Homo sapiens: one gene and its partners. The protein of the gene in region 4 interacts with the protein of the main gene of each other region in a biochemical or structural test. Each region holds a gene or a part of one and is shown on either strand. Other genes may lie near its edges.

Evidence for each region.
Region 1: the proteins of FCN2 (region 4) and PTX3 interact in a biophysical measurement, tested with the Homo sapiens proteins (2 studies listed by IntAct, with this or other methods).
Region 2: the proteins of FCN2 (region 4) and FN1 form a complex in vitro, tested with the Homo sapiens proteins (one study listed by IntAct).
Region 3: the proteins of FCN2 (region 4) and CR1 interact in a biophysical measurement, tested with the Homo sapiens proteins (one study listed by IntAct).

The regions. Positions count from the first base shown.
Region 1 is NC_000003.12:157,439,809-157,444,140, forward strand, and holds the end of PTX3 (pentraxin-related protein PTX3 precursor), read left to right. Parts: intron 1-2,557; coding exon 2,558-3,171; 3' UTR 3,172-3,825; downstream 3,826-4,332.
Region 2 is NC_000002.12:215,360,353-215,363,104, reverse strand, and holds the end of FN1 (fibronectin isoform 1 precursor), read left to right. Parts: exon of another isoform or gene 1-452; coding exon of another isoform or gene 453-459; intron 460-1,025; coding exon 1,026-1,136; intron 1,137-1,478; coding exon 1,479-1,550; 3' UTR 1,551-2,240; downstream 2,241-2,752. Other genes in the region: bifunctional purine biosynthesis protein ATIC, read right to left, coding at 453-459. UniProt on the Homo sapiens protein: Fibronectins bind cell surfaces and various compounds including collagen, fibrin, heparin, DNA, and actin. Fibronectins are involved in cell adhesion, cell motility, opsonization, wound healing, and maintenance of cell shape.
Region 3 is NC_000001.11:207,541,150-207,548,197, reverse strand, and holds part of CR1 (complement receptor type 1 isoform S precursor), read right to left. Parts: intron 6,017-7,048; coding exon 5,618-6,016; intron 2,891-5,617; coding exon 2,714-2,890; intron 2,623-2,713; coding exon 2,520-2,622; intron 928-2,519; coding exon 842-927; intron 1-841.
Region 4 is NC_000009.12:134,876,765-134,883,847, reverse strand, and holds the start of FCN2 (ficolin-2 isoform a precursor), read right to left. Parts: upstream 3,039-7,083; 5' UTR 3,027-3,038; coding exon 2,927-3,026; intron 1,323-2,926; coding exon 1,209-1,322; intron 547-1,208; coding exon 493-546; intron 1-492.

The DNA of each region.
Region 1 (4,332 bases), on a different chromosome or scaffold from region 4:
GGCGCGATCTCGGCTCACTGCAAGCTCCGCCTCCCGGGTTCACTCCATTCTCCTGCCTCAGCCTCCTGAGTAGCTGGGACTACAGGTGCTCGCCACCTTACCCAGCTAATTTTTTGCATTTTTAGTAGAGACGGGGTTTCACCGTGTTAGCCAGGATGGTCTCGATCTCCTGACCTTGTGATCCACCCGCCTCAGCCTCCCAAAGTGCTGGGATTACAGGTGTGATTGAACACTACTTTATTGAAACTTTATAGAGACTATATCAAATGCCCATGGATATGGTGATTTTTTTCAGTGATTTTTATTTGATTTTAATTAACACAGCTGGAAGAAAAGATGTACCTAGCAATTTCATTTGAAAATAGAATCACTGCCTCATTAAAAATTAATTTTAAAAAATCTTCAAAAGTTCAAATTATTTAGTGAAAAAGTATCAAAGCATGACAGAGCCAGTTTTGTGTTTTAGTATTGTAGTTACTTTTATATGATTATCTGAATGCCAATATTTTATTTGACTATCCCTAACACTAAAGGATAAGGTTCATATTTGTTTAATGTTTTCAGGATAGAGCCTACCCCTGAGCCACTTGTAGGAATCTGACATAGTTTACCACACTTTTACATGGATGTTTGGTTTCTGCAAGTTCTTTCTCTTTACCAGTTATTCTGGAACCATTCTGGGAGTTTGCTTTTCAAAGCTGTCTTATGGCATATCTTCTTTAGGTTGTTATACCTGCCCTAATTTAGGTGTTTTTAAAAAAATACCTACATACACATACACACATATATATACACACACATTTATATACATATATGTATGTATACATACATACATATCCATATGTATATATGTGTGTATATATACGTATACATACATATATATATATTTATGTATATAGATGCAGAGCTCACCTGTTCTTTCCCAGGGACACGTAAAAGGTTTTCGTTTCAGCATCTCCAGCTTCCCAAATGGCTAAGTCGCCTTGAGATGGACAATGGTGGAAACTTACTGAGCTTTCCACCTCAAATTTGAAAGTCCCCCTCCCAAGTGCTCTTTAGCAGAAACATGTTCTCCAACCAGGCCCCTTGAAAGAATGTACTTCTCTTAAAGATTTTCAATTACTGCTTAAATAGTAATTATAAGCATGTGGACAAGGTAGAATTTTTAAACACATTTTTGGTCTATTCAGCTCTTAAGTGCTACATACTTGCTGCTTACAGACTTGCAGAATATTAGGAGCAGAATGGAAGGGCCTTTTTTAGATAACGCTAAAGCCTAGAGGAAATTATGGTGCTCATCCAAAGTTGCATGGCTCATTAGTAGTAACACCATCTGGATTCTAGCCCTCCTAGAGAAATCTAGGGGTTCTATTAATAAGAGGCACTGTAGTGTGCTGATTAAGGGCGTGGCCTCTGTGACCAGACTGCAAAAATTCAAACTCTAGTTTTACTGCTTATCAGCTATGTAAACATAGATAAGTTACTTTTACCTAAGTTTTCTCATCTGTAAAATAGGAATGTAAAAGACTATCTCTTATGGTTGGCATAAGGATTAAAATGACAAACAAAATGATTAGAACAGTATCTGATACATAGTGAATGCCCAATAAGCTTAGTCATCATTATTATACATTGTTGCCTTTCAAAGGTAGTTTTCTAAAAACTCTGCAAAGTTTACAAATATCTGAGAACATTTGGTGTATTAAAATGTATTCTGCAGGCCAGGTGTGGTGGCTCATGCCTGTAATCCCAGCATTTTGGGAGGCTGAGGCAGGCGGATCTTGAGGTCAGGAGTTCAAGACCAACCTGGCCAACATGGTGAAACCCCGTGTCTAAAAAAAAAATACAATAGTTAGCTGGGCGCAGTGGTGTGCACCTGTAGTCCCAGCTACTCCGGAAGCTGAGGCAGGAGAATCGCTTGAACCTGGGAAGCGAAGGTTGCCGTGAGTCGAGATCGCACTACTGCAATCCAGCCTGGGTGACAGAGTGAGACTCTGTCTCAAAAAAAAAAAAAAATGTATTCTGCAATAACATCACTATCCTAGAATTTTGCTGAAAAATGCATGTTGGTAAAGGCTAAATGGAGCGAACTAGGTCTACTGAATTTCACAGGTTTATTATTTTAGGAACTTGGTGGTGGCAAAAAGAGAGAACCAGGTTGGGTTCTGAATTCTTGGAAATTATAGAATTATTGTCTGAAGTTAACTGATAGTGATTCAACTTTTTTAAAAAAAAGCAGTAACAAAGAAAATATGCAAATTGGAAGGGGAGGTAGTTATGGCTTTTATTATTTTGTGGGTTTGGACTAGTTGGCTCTTCTATTTGCGTGCTTTCTCTTCATTTAGATGCTTCATTGGATAAGACAATTGGCTTTCCTTTTTCTCATTTTCTTTGCTCTGCAGAGATTACAGTGGAAGCTTCTTAAGTCGTAATGTAGGGTTTCACATAGCTTTCAATTGTAATAATTAAAATTCTTATGTTAAATAACTAATGCCAGAATAATTCTGAATTAATTTATATTTTCTTTAATATTCTTCTTATTTTCTTGCTACTCTAGGTTGTGAAACAGCTATTTTATTCCCAATGCGTTCCAAGAAGATTTTTGGAAGCGTGCATCCAGTGAGACCAATGAGGCTTGAGTCTTTTAGTGCCTGCATTTGGGTCAAAGCCACAGATGTATTAAACAAAACCATCCTGTTTTCCTATGGCACAAAGAGGAATCCATATGAAATCCAGCTGTATCTCAGCTACCAATCCATAGTGTTTGTGGTGGGTGGAGAGGAGAACAAACTGGTTGCTGAAGCCATGGTTTCCCTGGGAAGGTGGACCCACCTGTGCGGCACCTGGAATTCAGAGGAAGGGCTCACATCCTTGTGGGTAAATGGTGAACTGGCGGCTACCACTGTTGAGATGGCCACAGGTCACATTGTTCCTGAGGGAGGAATCCTGCAGATTGGCCAAGAAAAGAATGGCTGCTGTGTGGGTGGTGGCTTTGATGAAACATTAGCCTTCTCTGGGAGACTCACAGGCTTCAATATCTGGGATAGTGTTCTTAGCAATGAAGAGATAAGAGAGACCGGAGGAGCAGAGTCTTGTCACATCCGGGGGAATATTGTTGGGTGGGGAGTCACAGAGATCCAGCCACATGGAGGAGCTCAGTATGTTTCATAAATGTTGTGAAACTCCACTTGAAGCCAAAGAAAGAAACTCACACTTAAAACACATGCCAGTTGGGAAGGTCTGAAAACTCAGTGCATAATAGGAACACTTGAGACTAATGAAAGAGAGAGTTGAGACCAATCTTTATTTGTACTGGCCAAATACTGAATAAACAGTTGAAGGAAAGACATTGGAAAAAGCTTTTGAGGATAATGTTACTAGACTTTATGCCATGGTGCTTTCAGTTTAATGCTGTGTCTCTGTCAGATAAACTCTCAAATAATTAAAAAGGACTGTATTGTTGAACAGAGGGACAATTGTTTTACTTTTCTTTGGTTAATTTTGTTTTGGCCAGAGATGAATTTTACATTGGAAGAATAACAAAATAAGATTTGTTGTCCATTGTTCATTGTTATTGGTATGTACCTTATTACAAAAAAAAGATGAAAACATATTTATACTACAAGGTGACTTAACAACTATAAATGTAGTTTATGTGTTATAATCGAATGTCACGTTTTTGAGAAGATAGTCATATAAGTTATATTGCAAAAGGGATTTGTATTAATTTAAGACTATTTTTGTAAAGCTCTACTGTAAATAAAATATTTTATAAAACTAGCTCACGTCATTTAATTATAAATTTAAGAGATGTTTTGGAGCAAACTCGTACTTTTCTCTTTTCATTTAAAGTAGGCAATTAGTTTTCAGATACTATTATGTAAACAGCATGGTTAATATTGTTAGGAATGAGCAACTATAGACTTGTTTTAAGTTTGGCTTCCTATAAATCATAAGCAAGAAATATTATCTCTGCCAAGTCAATTCATCTCTGTGGGTTTTAGTTTTCTCAGCTGAGAAATCAAGGAATTGATGAAATAAGAATCTCTAGGACTCTTCCCATTTGACAATTCTAGGAGCTTATACAACTTTCTGTACTGTGTAACATAAAAACAAACACCAAACATGAATTATCACAGTTCCTCAGATACACATGATGCTGCAAGACATGGCTTAGGAATGTTATTTGGGAGACCTAAGAATCTGGAAAAGAACTCCTGCCCTGAAAGCACACCCCATTCTCTTCCTTACTCAGAAGGGAGAGGTCAAGCCCCTTCACACTGTGGATGGGGAGGTAACTTTTCCCCACCACACTAGTATTCTCCTGTAGAT
Region 2 (2,752 bases), on a different chromosome or scaffold from region 4:
GTTAGGTATTAAGGGGCATATGTGCTTAAACAGAGAAATATGTCTAAAATATTTAAATTCTAATATAAAAAAGAAAGTGACTGTATTATTTAGGGCTGCATTTTAGTTGTAAGAAAAAAGTCCAACTCAAGCAAAAATGGCCCACACAATGGAACAGTCCCAGGACCCACCGGCTTCAGGGGCTGCTCCAGCAATGGCGCCCGGACTCCCTCTTGCTCCGCGTGCCTTCCCATGCACTGGCTTCGTGCTTCAGCGGGGTCTCTGCTGATGGTGCCATTGATGACTGACCTCCATGAGCTTGCTTTACCCCCTGCCAGCTTAAGAACAGTAGTGAAAGAGAACATGTGTGTCCTCCCATTTCCAGTAAAAACTTCAGGCAGGAGCCTCACTGGCTCAGCTTGGTCCCGTTTCCATCTCCCATGCCATCTCCGGCCAGGTGACAGGCTACCATGTCACTGCCTAGGGAAGTTTAGGAAGAGAGTGGCAAAGTGGTGCATTAGAAAGAACATGGCCAGGTCACCCCACCTCCTGGGCGGCAGGCCCAACTCCACCAGTGGTCCACTGTGTGACTTCCCTGCTCCCTCTAAGCAAGTCACTCCTCTCCTCTGGGTCTCTGTTTCCTTACCTATAAAATGAGAACGTTTCTTCATGTGATCTCAAGTCCCTTTTAAAATCGCTAGGATTCTTTGAAAACCTTTTCTATCATCTAGTGCAGAGAACTTGTTGAGGAAGTTGGGATTGGAATGAGCCTCAGCAGATGGGCAAGGTTTGAATAGGAAGAGAAGAGACATTTCAGGAGAAAGAAACAACATAGAGAGACAGATGTAGGTATAAGATATGGTAATAAGCCAAAATGTATTAAGAGTTATAAATGCATGAAATCATCATCAAAGCTTGCTTAGTGATTAACTGCTTATATTTTGCCAGTGCATATGATGTGACATTTTTCTTTAACTCAAACACTAAATTACGATGTCCTCAGGTTATCATAAACCCCATTTGACTTCATGCCTCTACTCTCTCAGGGCTGGCGCTGTGACAACTGCCGCAGACCTGGGGGTGAACCCAGTCCCGAAGGCACTACTGGCCAGTCCTACAACCAGTATTCTCAGAGATACCATCAGAGAACAAACACTGTAAGTGCATTAGCAGCACAAGTGTGTTCCCTCATACTAGACAGTCTCTTTCTACAGGTATCTTTCTTCAGAATGAACCAAGTGTTTTAATTAATTAAAAAAAAAAACAACTCATAAATGACTTAAGTGAAACACTGTATTCCATAATATAGTTTAAGTTATAATTTATGTAACTCTTGAACATCTCCTATTGCCCAGTATGCTGCTAGGTTCTTGAAACTAGGAAGAAATATTATCCTATCTATAAGCAGCTGTCATGAGTCCCCACCTCCCCGCATTTTTTTTTCTGTACACTTTACAGTATTTGCCACTAATTTTTTTTTCCTTCTTCCTTTTTAACAGAATGTTAATTGCCCAATTGAGTGCTTCATGCCTTTAGATGTACAGGCTGACAGAGAAGATTCCCGAGAGTAAATCATCTTTCCAATCCAGAGGAACAAGCATGTCTCTCTGCCAAGATCCATCTAAACTGGAGTGATGTTAGCAGACCCAGCTTAGAGTTCTTCTTTCTTTCTTAAGCCCTTTGCTCTGGAGGAAGTTCTCCAGCTTCAGCTCAACTCACAGCTTCTCCAAGCATCACCCTGGGAGTTTCCTGAGGGTTTTCTCATAAATGAGGGCTGCACATTGCCTGTTCTGCTTCGAAGTATTCAATACCGCTCAGTATTTTAAATGAAGTGATTCTAAGATTTGGTTTGGGATCAATAGGAAAGCATATGCAGCCAACCAAGATGCAAATGTTTTGAAATGATATGACCAAAATTTTAAGTAGGAAAGTCACCCAAACACTTCTGCTTTCACTTAAGTGTCTGGCCCGCAATACTGTAGGAACAAGCATGATCTTGTTACTGTGATATTTTAAATATCCACAGTACTCACTTTTTCCAAATGATCCTAGTAATTGCCTAGAAATATCTTTCTCTTACCTGTTATTTATCAATTTTTCCCAGTATTTTTATACGGAAAAAATTGTATTGAAAACACTTAGTATGCAGTTGATAAGAGGAATTTGGTATAATTATGGTGGGTGATTATTTTTTATACTGTATGTGCCAAAGCTTTACTACTGTGGAAAGACAACTGTTTTAATAAAAGATTTACATTCCACAACTTGAAGTTCATCTATTTGATATAAGACACCTTCGGGGGAAATAATTCCTGTGAATATTCTTTTTCAATTCAGCAAACATTTGAAAATCTATGATGTGCAAGTCTAATTGTTGATTTCAGTACAAGATTTTCTAAATCAGTTGCTACAAAAACTGATTGGTTTTTGTCACTTCATCTCTTCACTAATGGAGATAGCTTTACACTTTCTGCTTTAATAGATTTAAGTGGACCCCAATATTTATTAAAATTGCTAGTTTACCGTTCAGAAGTATAATAGAAATAATCTTTAGTTGCTCTTTTCTAACCATTGTAATTCTTCCCTTCTTCCCTCCACCTTTCCTTCATTGAATAAACCTCTGTTCAAAGAGATTGCCTGCAAGGGAAATAAAAATGACTAAGATATTAAAAGTATTTGAATAGTATAATATGGAGGAGTTTTATCTTAGGGAAACCCCATGGTATGATAACCCCCATCTAACATGTCTTACTTTGGGTCAGCTGACACTTTT
Region 3 (7,048 bases), on a different chromosome or scaffold from region 4:
TGTATACATATGTAACAAACCTGCACGTTGTGCACATGTACCCTAGAACTTAAAAGTATAATAAATTTTTAAAAATGACATTATTTATGAATCTCTCAGCATAAATTATTTAGGTACATGTTTTGAGAATTTAAGGAGTCTCAAACTGCTCGCCTTGTCTAATGTTGCTCCTCACTTTTCCCTCATGCCTAAATGCTTTGCTCTACTATCTTCATAGCATCGTATTTATTTTTTTTCTTGTCCCTTTCCCCAACTGAGTGGAAACAACATGGGGACAGGGAATTCATTCATCTTGTTCACTGATATAACTCCTGTGGCTAGATGAACATCAGGCACAAAGTATGTGATCAATAAATATTGATTAAATAAAGGCATGTTTAATATTTGTGTATTATCAAATATATACAAAAATTGTAGACTGCACCTGATGGAAGAACAAAATGGAAAAGAAAGAAGGAGGAAGGAAGGAAGAAAGGGGAGAGAAAGAGAAGGGAAGAAAGAACTGAAGAAAGGAAGGAAGAGAAAAAAGAAACAAAAGAAAGAGAGAAAGAAAGCAAATTGTTAAGGCTTCACATTATCTAATCTCTCCTGACCTAGAATCATGCTACCATAGGATTTATCGCACTAGAACACAGAATACAGAAGGACAGAGACAGATCAGATGGTTCCAAAGACAGGTGATGTATACATTTGATTCACAACCAAACATTATTAAAATAAGCAATTTTCAAATCAATAATTCAAACTAGAAAATTGAAGAACCACATTAGGGGAGGTCATGGGTCAAATACTGAACAGATGAAGGGAGAGACTGGCCTGAAATGTTACTCCTGCTACTCACGTTCACACACTGGAACACTGCTATTCCAAAGGCTTTCCATTCCAGCCAAGACACAGTAACTAGCAGAGCTGCCTTTTAATTGAAATCTAAAGAAGAAAATAGGAGTGAATAGTGTGAGCTGTTTCAGCCAAGAGAACCCTTAGTTCACAATCTAAGGCCCAGCCCCAATTTCAGGATTATTAGGACCTTAGGCCAGCAGGTGGCAGAGTTGCACAGGCTACCTTATTCTGGAAAAATCACAGCCTCCAGAAGGGAACAATATAGAATGGCAAAATGCAGTAGCTTGGTCACATGATAGTCCTGCTTGAACTGAAAAAGGTGGTCATGACATAGGCGCCATCCCCTTGACCCAGGACCCAGGCTTGGAGTTTCACTGATTACTCCATGATAACCTGATAAATCACTCATTGTTGTTATTAGAAACCCAGTCTTCTAATGTAATGCCTTCCTAACTCTGACCCTGGAACAGCAAGTAAAACAGCTCCCAGTTTGGAGTGGAAAAGTGGGAAATAGCTGGCGAGAGAACAGACTGTCCTTTCATCTCCACATCTGTGATGGCGTGAAGAAGGCTCAAAAGGGCAATTTGGGCTGCTGAAGAGTAAGCATGAATATTCTAGGGGAAAAAGGAAAGAAGAGAGGACTTATTTTTTGCATGCAATTGTCGAAAATTCTCAATGTCTGCTGGACCCCGATGCCCTCCTAACTCTTACTGGGTGCTGGCATTTGGAGGCTGCCAAGATTCTGTGTTACATTTTGGGATCAGGTGCTTTGTTGCCCATGCCGGTCAGCTCCCGTGTAGAGATGTGCACCCTGCGAAGAGCACTAGGTGGACATAAACAAGGTAATGAGCTTGCTGGAAATATTAACAGCAGCCATCAGGACCCCAGCTCAGAGCCCAGAGCCCATGATTAACCAGATGATATATGGCTGGATTTTTTTAAAAAATGCTGATTTTTACATTTTCAGTCCTATTACAAATTTCACTGTTGACGATTTAAAGAATTTACTGAAATGATTCACAAATGATCCTAGCTTTTTATAATAAGCTTTTGTTACTTCCAGTTTTTTCCTGGGACTCTCTAAATTACTCATATTCCTTTTTGCTTGTAAAATATGATTTTTTTTCCTGAGATGGAGTTTCACTCTTATTGTCCACGCTGGAGTGCAATGGTGCCATCTCGGCTCACTGCAAACTCCACCTCCCAGGTTCAAGTGATTCTGGTGCCTCAGCCTCCGGAATAGCTGGGATTACAGGCACATGCCACCACACCCAGCTAACTTTTGTATTTTTAGTAGAGACAGGGTTTCATCATGTTGTCCAGGCTGGTCTCCAACTCCTGACCTCAGGTGATCTGCCCGCCTCAACCTCCCAAAGGTGCTAGGATTACAGGGGTGAGCCACCGTTTCTGGCTGATATTTTTTGCTTAATGTGTTACTTATATATTCATAACCAGTAGTTATACTTGCCTTTGAACTTGCCAGTTAATATATGTTCCAGTTTCCTCTTCATATCTCATGTTATTAGTTCTATATGTTTCTTTCCTTTCTTCCTAGGTATACTTTCGAAAGTTCATCTCTCTGAAGGTGTGTGTGTGTGTGCCACACCAAATCTCCCCTTTTTAGACTGATTCCCAACCCCAATTTCAATGTCCAGCAGGTCAGGCAAGCTCATACTCACCCTTCATCACAAACAAAATCCACTTTTGCTCCAAGCTGGAGATTTACTGGAAATAGCACACGGCCATTAAGAAGTTGGCCCATGAAGTCATCACAGGATTTCACTGGAGATAAAGAAAAACGAACAGAAATCACTGGCATGTGGAGAATAAAGACGCAAGCTAAAAATATCAAGCCAGATAAGAGTCTAGTCACCTTCACATGTGGGGGCTGCAGGGCTCCAGTCTCCCTGGGGTGTGCAGCGCATAGACGCAGCCCCTCTGAGGTCGTAGCCGGGCTCACAGCTGTAGAACACTTCCTGCCCGGGTGAAAAGTTGTCCTTGTCCCTTTGGGTACGCTCAGCATGCAGGACATCTGGAGGTGGCTGACATACTGGGGAGAGAGAAACAAAGTACAGCTAATTGTGTGAAAACAACTTTTTTCTCACTGTTAAACTGGCCAAGGGAATAATAATTACGAATCTATATATAATAATAAAGTTAGAATAACAGCCTTATTACATTGATAAACTAAATACACGGGGCAAGGAAGATGTCTTGCCATCAGTCATAGAACTGACACATGGCACAACTGTGACTAAAACAGAGGTATCTCCAATTCATTGTTTTTCATCTAAAGTATGCAACTAAGATTTCACAATGGACAGTTCCTTCTAGAATGCTTCCAATTACTGTTCACCCAGTACAAAATTGGGAGGAATGATGGATTTTTGTATCTTCATACTTCCTTTCTAGAAAGGCATCACCAATTTAGTCTTGCATTTTAAGCAATAAAGGAGTGCCCCTGCCCATGTCCCATCTAATAGGTCCCTCCATCACCTATCACACTGGTGCAACAAAGAGCGTCCATACATCTATGCTCATCTCCTTTCAAGTCTTCTCTCAGCGGCCACCTGACATAGGGTGGTAAAGAACTATGGGTCTCCTCTCTTCATGCTATGTAGCAAGGTGCTGCCTAGTCATTCATTTCACTTCAGTGAGAAGGTGGGAAACTGTCGAACAAAATCTGAAAGACCTACTGTCACCATAATGAGAGTGTAATTTCACACAACATATTGTAACGGCATCTCAGGCTCTCTCTTAATGTAGTTGATCTGATCTTGGGAAATCAAAACACATTTGGATCTCAAATAAATTACATAAAACTGTTATAAAATGGAAAAAGTAATTTCAGTTTGTCTTTGAGCAGATCAGTTCCCTTTTCTGGACTTCAGCTTTCTCAAGCATCAAATGGGGGATTGGAATAGAAAAATGACTTCTTTAAGGAGTTTGTAAATACTCTGATGCTGTAATGTCCATTTTCAGGGCTCATCACCCAGTGTTTCCCTGGACTAATCAATGCCTGGTGATGTAATATTGAGGTGCTGTGCTGGTTAAATTTCTGTTGGCCCCCAGCCTCACATTTCTGCACTGTCTTTTGACAGCTAACAATGGAGGCCTTAAAAATAAATCGTTCATCTTCCTTGATAGCTAGGCTCTGGTTAGGTTCTGCCAATTGGAGGCATATATACCAAATTAAAAAGCAGGATGATGGCAGAATCTGTTCTACTTCTAGAAGTGGCTCAGGCAGTGGCAGTATAGATGGCTTCAGTGAGTAGCTACAGCTTCAATTGTAACGATGCCAATGACTTTGGCTCCAGCAATATCAGCTGCATTCTGGCAGCAATGGTGGCTCCTGCAGTATTAGCAGCTTACAGGGAGCTGCCTGCTCAGTGGGAGGGGCTGGCCATTTCACCATCACTCCAGGCTCCTGTGCTGTAGACTGGGAGCCACAGCAGCTCCCTGATCTCTCGTAACTTTGCCTTTGTCCTATTGCTTTTCCTGCCCTTCTAACATTTTTGTGACCTATTAGCTGCGATATGGTTTGGCTCTATGTCCCCTCCCAAATCTCATGTCAAATGGTAATTCCCAGTGTTGGAGAAGGAGCCTGGTGGGAGGTGACTGGATCATGGAGGTGGTTTCTAATGGTTGAGCACCATCACCCTAGTGCTGTCTTGTGATAGAGTTCTGTCAAGATCTGCTTGTTTCAAAGTCTGTAACACCTCTGCCTTGCTCTCTCTCTCTCTCCTGCCAAGCATATGAAGATATGCGTGCTTCCTCTTTGCCTTCCACCATGATTGTAACTTTCCCAGCCATGCCTCCTGTACAGCCTACAGAACTCTGAGTCAATTAAACATCTTTTCTTTATAAATTACCCAGGCTCAAGTAGTTTTTTATAGGAATGTGAGAACAGACTAATACAACCTGCATGAAATCCCTCCCTCCTTGAAAGTATCTAGAGTAAGTTTTGATTTCATGACTGAATGCTGATGAGCAAAGCCAAGGCTCTGGAGTGAGGTGGACTTGCAATCCAGTTTTGTCTGCAAGTTACTGTCTCAGAATGTTATCTGATGTGTCTAAGGCACATATTCTCTGTAAAACATAGAGGCCGGGCACAGTGGCTCATGCCTATAATCCCAGCACTTTGGGAGCCCAAGGTGGGTGGGTGCTTGAGCTGAGGAGTTTGAGACCAGCCTGGGCAGCATGGTGAGACTCTGTCCCTACAAAAAAAATATAAAAAACTTAGCCAGGCATGGTGGCATGCACCTACATTCCCAGCTACTTGGGAGGCTCAGGCAGGAGACTTGCTTGAGTCAGGGAGGTGGAGGGTGAAGTATGCCATGATGGCACCACTGCAGTCCAACCTGAGTGACAGATCAAGACAGTATCTCAAGCAAAACAAAACAGACAAACATAGAACAACTGGGAACTACCTAATAACTTTGTTTTCAGGATTAAAATTCACATGTAGCCTGTATTATAGTGCCTGGGCAGAGGAATCACTCATTTTGTATCAAACATTATTATACTCAAAGGTAATTGATAGATCTGTTTATAAGAACCCCAAAGAAACATCATATCCCTTGCCCAGGTTGAGCTTTGCTTCTCAATTTCAGCACATGTGCATGTCTACACACCTGAATTTCATGTTCACTACTTAGAAAATTTGCTCCTCGACCCTGCTCAGCACACATCCCTCCCCGTGAACAAATACTAATCTCCTGATCCAACAGCAACGCATGTCACTTGCAGGGCCCTACTAGGCCTCAGTCAGACTCACCCCTGGAGCAGCTTGGTAGCTCCGGCTCCCATTTGTTCAGGGCCTGGCACTTCACACGGCGGGGTCCTTTCATGACAAAGCCAGGCTGACACCTAAACTCCACAACTTCATTTAAGGAAAATAAGCTTCTGTTGTCAGATACCAATATTCCATTTTCCACATTTGGAGGCGTGCATTTGTTAGGTATAATGCACTGAGGGGCCGGGCCGCTCCAGATGCCCACTTGATCGTCATTGCTGGTGCAGTATATGGAGGGCTCACCCACAAGCTCAAACACCTTTCTCCCTCCGCTTCCAGGATTGCAGCGGTAGGTCACCACTGATCCATAGTGAAAATTCTCTCTGTTGGTGCTAATGAAATCTCCATTGGCGATGGTGGGGGGTAGCCCACAAGGAATTCCTGGAAAAAGGGACAGCAAGTTAACCAAAACAAAACCTTGGGACAGAGTCTTGCTCTGTCACCCAGGCTGGAGTGTAGTGGCACGATCATGGCTCACTGCAACCTCCACTTCCCAGGTCAAGCAATCCTCCTACCTCAACTTCCCGAGTAGCTGGGATCACAGGCATGCACTACCATGTCTGGTTTATTTTTGTATTTTTAGTAGAGATGGGGTTTGGCCATGTTGGGCAGGCTAGTCTTGAACTCCTGGCCTCAAGCAATCTGCATGCCTCTGCTTTTCAAAGTGCTGGGATTATAAGCGTGAGCCACCACGCCTAGCCTGGTTTGTTAAAATCATACTTTATTGTAAATTTTCCCAAAAGTTTTTTTTTTAATTCCAAATTACCAGAAGTAAATATTGAAAATACTATTCTCATCTACTATTTGCTAATGTACAGACATGTTCTTACAGTTTTAAAATATTATAAGTTCTGCTCTACTCAGTTAAGTTTATTTCACTAAATGTGTCCATGTATTATTAGAGTCCACTTTTTTTTTTTTTTTTTAACAGATCCTCACTCTGTTCCCCAGGCTGGAGTGCAGTGGCGTGATCTTGGCTCACTGCAGCCCTTGCCTCCCAGGTTCAAGCGATTTTCCTGCCTCAGCCTCCTGAGTAGCTGGGATTTCAGGCATGCGCCACCAAACTCGGCTAACTTTTGTATTTTTAGTAGAGGCGGGGTTTCATTATGTTGGCCAGGGTGGTCTCAAACTACTGACCTCAAGTGATCTGCCCACCTCAGCCTCCTAATGTGCTGGGATTACAGGTATGAGCCACTGTGCCTAGCCTATAGTCTATGTTTTTATTTCTCCTGCTAAATGAGAATTTAACTGTTATCTCACCATTATTAATTTAGTTCTCTCTATATAGAAGGCATGTGTCTTTATTCTATTGGATATTAATATAATAAAGCATACAGCATAGCATTTTTTTTGAGACAAGGTCTTGCTCTGCTGCCCAGACTGGAGTGCAGTGGCACGATCATGGCTCATTGC
Region 4 (7,083 bases):
ACCCCTCCCCACACTAAAAGTCCCTCCCCGAATAATCAGAACCTCTCCCCCATCCCAGAATCTCTCCCCCATATTGACAGCTCCTCCCTCCCTGCTGATAACACCTCCCCACAGCCTGCCCACCGGGAACCCCTCCCCCAACACACACCCCAAGAACCTCTCCCTACACCACCAAGAACCCCTCCTCCGACATTGAGAACCCTGCCCCCACACTGATGACCCCACTCCCCCAAACTGAGACCCCCTACACACATTGAGACCAGCTCCCACACTGATAACCCCACTCCCCCAGACTGAGAACCCACACACACATTGAGACCCCTTCCCCCACACTGAGACCCCTGCCCTGGACTAAGCCCCAAGAGCCCTGCCTGGGCAGGCGTTGGCTCTGGCGAGGACAGCGTGGCAGCCCCAGAAGACCCGCCTCACGTTCCTCTGCAGCCAGGTCTGGAAGGGCCTTGAAGCCGCTTCTCACTCTTGTCCCCTCCTTACCGTTGGGCCCAGGTGGTCCTGCCTTCCCAGGAGGTCCAGGGGGGCCACGTTCTCCTGCAATTTCCAAAGACACTGACTTGAGGAAAACTGCCCAGCCCAGGATCAAAGGGCCCACCCTGGAGCTGGCGGCTGTCATTTCCAATCATGACCATGACCCTGCTCGTGCTACGACGTGACTGTGGCCCCGCCCAGGCTTGCCCATCCTGCACCAGAAGGTTCTAGATCCAGGACCCAGGCCTCACGGGGCTCTCCTGTTCACTCAGGGGCCGGGAGCTGGAAATCCAGAGACCATGGGTAGAATCTCGGCTCTTTTCCTTCCAAGTGTGAGAACAGAGCGAAATCCCTGGACTCTCTGAGCCTCAGTTTCCTCATCTGAGACAGGTGGAGAAGAGTGTCATGGCCTCCGTGTTGAGGTGGGAAGGTGGAGGGACACAGAGCTTGAAGTCGTGCCAGCGGCCGAGCAAAGCTGGTATTGGATCAAGGACTAGGAGACAGAGCTACAGAAGCATGTCCAAATGTGAGCTCATGAAATAGCTAAGAAAGACGCTCCCTCCATGTCAGAACCCTGTTGGGCCCTGGGAGTCAGTTCTTTTCCTGGCTCTTGCAGGGGCCTGACCCAGCTCTCGATCTAGGAACCATGGTGGGGGTGTTGCCCAACTCAGCATCTGGTTTCAAAAAGAGCAAGAGCCAGTGCCCCCAGCCATGCCTGCACCTACCTCTCTTTCCATTGGTGCCTGCCTCTCCCTTGGGCCCAGGGGCCCCAGGCAGCCCCGGACAGCCTCGGAGAATGGTGAGCTTGTCAGAGCCCTCCAGGCCCACCATCTTCACCTCTGCAGAAAAACACAGGTGGCCACTCAGTGTCACCTGGGCCTGAAGACTCCACTGAGCCATAGATATACCACTCAACTGAAAGGCATCTGCCATCTTGGTGACATCAGGACTGGGCAGATGGCTATAGCCACAGCCACCTCCCTCAGCTGGAGGGTCACCTGGAAGGGAGGTTTTCCTGCCCTGGTGGGCACTTGGTCTGTCCTCACCTCTTGGGCACTGGTCAGGCAGAAAGGTGATTTGGGGCAGAACCCTGGCCTTGGAGGCTACCCTGCCTGAAGGCAAACCTTACTTCCTCAGTACTGTGTGTCCTGAAACAAGTCCCTTAACCCCTCTGAGCCTCTGTTCCCTTACCTACCGAGGGGTGCAGGTTCATTTCAGCTCCTACCATTTAAGACAGCATCCTAATCTCGTCTGTTCTCATCTATCATATCATTGTAATCAATATCGGGTGAGAAGGACACAGGGAGAGAGGCTACCATTGCAACTCCCACGCCTGATCTTGGAGCAGATCTGAGAGTGGATGGGCTCCTGTGGGTCCACCTTGTTCCTCCACAGAGGGAGGCGTCCTTCAAGGACACTGAACAAGTTGGTGCGAAACTAGAGCTGGAATGCAGCTTGTTGTTTTTAATTAGATAACTCAAATTCAAGTGAGTGTGTTACAAAAATAACACGTGCTATTATTTGATCATTTAGAAACTCTAGAAGTATTTAAGGAAGAAAATAATGCCACCCTAACCCCACCACTCCACAACGAGCCACTAGGAGTTTCCAAGCGAATCCCCGCTGTTCCTGGCCTGTGTCACACTTCACGCCACGGATTGCTCCTTGAATGCGATGCTAGTCACAGCACACCGCAGAGCTCTGTGTCTCACATGCATTCCAGAAATCCTGACACGAATCTCTGCAAGCATCAGGAGCATCACAAATTCCTGACCCTGCATCCCAGCCCCGGGTAGACGGAGTCAGGACCTGACTCCAGAACCTGCATTTTCAACCTGCCCTCGCATGCGCCGGAGCCCATGGTTTGGCACCCGAGTGTCCCCTCGGGAGCCCCGAAGGAGGTCCAGAACTCACGGGGACAATGCCACCCTTATTGTGCCGCATCAGGGACACCATGGGAACTGCCATCTCCAGAGCCCAGCAGGTCCTGGATGGAAAGGTCCTGCAGTGCTCATCCCCGCCTGACACCCTGTCTTTCCGGGTGCTTATCCCCACCTCACACCCTGTCTCTCTGTGATGGCGACCATGGCAGAATATCTGACTGGTGTCTACCCAGCTGGCACCACAAGCCTCACCTCCCCACACAACACCATGACTACGCTTTTTACGCTTAGAGGGGGACATGTGGCCCAGGGAGACTGGAAACCTGCCTCGGTTTCCATTATGGGAGGGCAAGCAGAGGAAGCTCCGTCTCTGAGATGCCACATCCATTCGGGGCCTCTGCGTTTGTTCACATAAGATGAGGCATGCAGAGCTGCTGTCTCGTTAGACGATGCTCCACACGGCCTGGTGCAAGGCCTGGAAGCCAGGAAGCCACCAATCACGAAGCTGCCAGCTTTCAGGGACGAGAAGTTTCCAGGAGGAGGCCCTGGAGTGCCCTTACCTGGACAGGTGTCTGCCGCCTGGAGAGCCCAGGCCATGCCCAGGAAAGAGAGCAGCAGGGTGGCAGCGCCCAGGACCCCCACAGCTCTGTCCAGCTCCATCTCTTCTGGTCTTTGCTTCAAAAGGTGCCTGCCCTCTTATAGGGCTAGAGAAGCCAGCCTCCCTCAGACTCCAATTTCTCATCTTCCGAGTGACAGCCGCTTCCTCTCCGCGGGCTTGGTGACGCCAGCAGGAGGTGCGAGATCATCTCCAGGGCTGCTCCCTACCCCCCGCCCCTTGGGGATCCCATGGCGACTGTCATCCCTGCAGGGGGACGGTCTCCTTCCAGGGAACAGGCTGACTTGCTTGTGGCCTTGGGCAAAGAGCCCAGGCCCATCCTCCCACCTTTGTTCAGCGGTGAGCAGATGTCACCATGAGCTGAGAACGGGGAACAAGGAAGGGTTTGCTAAAGATGTTCTGCTTCAAAGAGGTCTCTCTCCCTTATCCGAATACCTAGAGTCCTCATGGCCAGGGCTGGTCATGGGCCACTGGTGTGGGCCTTACACAGTAACCCTCACCACATCATGAGCAGACTTGGGACTCTCCTCAGGAGGCTTGGAAACTGCCACTATGAGGTCCAGGCAGGCTGCCAGGGTGAAAAGGAGAGGAAAATGCGTGTGTGTCCACTGTTTCCTGGGGCAGTATGTAGAGCACAGGGGCACATGAACAGGAGGGAAAGGAGAGAAGAGTGGGGAGCCTGGGGGACTATGACCCAGGTACACATCTGAAGGGGAGACCTTGAGTGTGAATGCAGGGGCTTAGCCTGTAGGGAGGATGAGAGTAGGTGAATTTCACTCCTAGGGCCCAGGGAACCCCCTGAGCCCTGAGGCCAGACATCCCACCTGTAGGATGGCTGTGGACTTACTTCAGTGGTTGTGTTCGCCTTTTGGAGAAGAGCTGGCCTGAAGGTGCACTCTCGCCTTGGACTGAGCCAGGTTAGAGACAGAGACAGTAGCAGGTGGGGCCCCAGAGGCCGTATACCTAAAGCCCCCAGAGACGGAACCAGCACTGCACCTCCCACTACCACCACCGCACCCTGCCACCTGCTGCCATCGGGATGCCGAGGTGCCTTCTTCCTTGGCAAGATCAGTAGAAGGATTTTAAACTGTGACCCCAGCCCAGCAAAGCCACGCGAGAAACAAAATCCCATCGGATTTTCCTTCAATGCCCATGGAGATGTGTGGTCCTGAGACTATGACTAGTTAAGACCCCCCTCGGGTTCCGTGGTGTTTAGGGCAGACCTCTCAAGACTTAATTAAGGCTATGCCAGATGCAGATGAGGTCCAGGGATGAACCTGGGGAAGACACAGGCTCCATGGAGATGCAGATATGGAACCTAGAAAGATGGCTTGGGGGCATCTTCCTCAAAGTCCTGAAGTCACCTGCAGAGGAGCCAGGTCCCCAGAGCTGCCCAGTGAAACCCCAGCAGCCAAAATTCCGAGTCCTTAGGCAGGTTCCTTTACTGCATGCTATTTGTCCTTCCTAATAGAAGCATCTTTCAAACCTAGATGACTTAAAATTAAGTCTAGAAGGCTTTAAAAGCCCAAAGACATTATATTAATATTTTAGTGTTCAGAAATCTAAAAAAATATGCTATTTAAAGTACTTGCAATAATCAAGAGAATCTGGCCTATTGGAGTGGGTGCAGGATAACTTCAACAGAAAATGGCCAATTGAGTAATTGATTTGGCAGAGTGCATTTATGCGGAAAACTTACCGAATTCATATAAACTATTGAATCACTTTATTGGAACTCTGAGTTTATCACATGCTGAATTTAAATGATTACATTTCTAGCAGTTCATATTCAGAAGGATTTTTTAAAGTTAGACAAGGTACTAAAGGATAAATGTGGTTCTATTAAATGTATAAATGCAGTAACAATGTTTGAAGGTGTTTAGTTGGCTAAGTTAAGGAATGGACCAAGAATTATTCACAGGCTCCTTATAGGTGGTTATTAAAAGATAGAATAATAAGGTTTATAAGTCACACTTTTAAAATGAAGGCAGAATGCAGCTTTTAAAGTACACTTTTTTTTTTGAGACGGAGTTTCGCTCTTGTTGCCCGGGCTGGAGTGTAATGGCACAATCTTGGCTCACCACAACCTCCGCCTCCTGGGTTCAAGCGATTCTCCTGCCTCAGCCTCCCGAGTAGCTGGAATTACAGGCAGGCACTACCATGTCCGGCTACTTTTTGTATTTTTAGTAGAGATGGGGTTTCCCCATGTTGGTCAGGCTGGTCTCGAACTCCCGACCTCAGGTGATCCACCCACCTTGGCCTCCCTAAGTGTTGGGATTACAGGTGTGAGCCACCGCGCCAGGCCCTAAAGTAAGATTTTTAATAAATGGACATAATTAAATTTGAATTCGTTTTAGAAAGCAAAGGAAGACCTGAAAAGTCTTTGGTGAACTCAAAATTGCCCACAGATGATAACACACAAAAACCAAAGCCCTCACAGGCACCAGTGTAAATGTTGGTCAGGGGTGCTTCCAGGGGTCACGTCACTTGTTACGGGCAAGGAGGCTGAGGCTCAGAGAAGGGCAGAAGTTCCCGCAAGGCACATGGCCAGTTCATGGCTGAGCTGGCTTCCAGCCCTAGTTCCTCGGGTCCCAACTAGGGCCTTTTCTACCCCCCTGTATTAATCAGGGACAGAACTAATAGGATAGGCATATATAAAGGGGAGTTTATTAAGTATTAACTTACAGGATCACAATAGGCTGTGTGCAAGCTGAGGAGCAAGGAGACCCAATCTGAGTCTCAAAACTGAAGAACTCGGAGTCTGATGTTCGAGGGCAGGAAGGATCCAGCACAGGAGAAAGATGTAGGCTGGGAGGCTAGGCCCATCTCGCTTTTTCACATTTTTCTGCCTGCTTTTTATTCACTGACAGCTGATGAGATGGTGCCCACCAGACTGAGGGTGGGTCTGCCTTCCCCAGCCCACTGACTCAAATGTTCATCTCCTTTGGCAGCATCCTCTCAGAAACACCCAGGATCAATACTTAGCATCCTTCAATCCAATCAAGTTGACACTCAGTATTAACCATCACATCCCCCTTCCAGAAGTTTCCCTCCCACACAAGCTACCTCTGTGCCTCAGCCCAGGTCTCCACCCTCAGGGTGCCGGCTGTTCTAGGACAGGTGATGCTGTACACAGGAGACAGACCAGGCAGGCATGGATCCCATCTGTGAGGTCTCTAACATGACCACCATCTCACAAAGGCCAGGAGGAGAGAAATGGAGAACACGGCCATGAGACTCTTGTAGCAGACAGCAGTGGCTTCATGTTGCCGGAAGGTAAACTGTGATCATGGAAGAGATTTACTACAAATTCTAACGTGGCCACTAAAATAACAACCTTCTACAGATTCAAGCCATACAAAGTATGTTCTCGGACAACAATGGAATTAATTAGAAATCAAGAAAAGAAAGGTGTCTAGAAAATCCTCCCAAATATTTGGATACTAAATAACATTCTTCTAAATAAGATATAGGAAATAGAAGAGGCCAAAGGAGAAATTAGAAAGAATTTTGAATTGAATGAAAACAAAAAGGCAGTAAAATACAGTTTGCATGGTGTTCCTAAAGCACTCCTTGGGAGGCAAATTACAGTGTGAAATGTTCACTAAAAAGGAAGAAAGGTCTCAGGTCAACAGCCTCTGCTTCCGTCTCAAGAAACTAGAAAAACAAGAGTAAATTAAATCCAAAGTAGAAAAAAGAGAATGAATAATAATGAACAAGTGCAGAAAATCAATACAACCTGAAGCTGATTCTTTGAGAAGGTAAATCAAATTTATAAACCTCTAGTCAGACTGAAGAAAAGAGAAAAAAGAGGGAGAATGCAAAATATCACTATTAGGAAGAGATCAATGACCTCACTACATATTCTACAGATATTATGAGGAATATAAGGAGATATTAAGACACTTTAGCACCAACATATTCAACAGTGGAAATGAAATGGACAATTTCTTTGAACCACCAAAGTCACTCAAGAAATACCTAAGTCAAACAACTGGCGTGGTGGCTTACGCCTGTAATCCCAGCACTTTGGGAGGTCGAGGTGGGTAGATCACCTGAAGTCAGTTCGAGACCAGCCTGGCCAACGTGGCAAAACCCCTT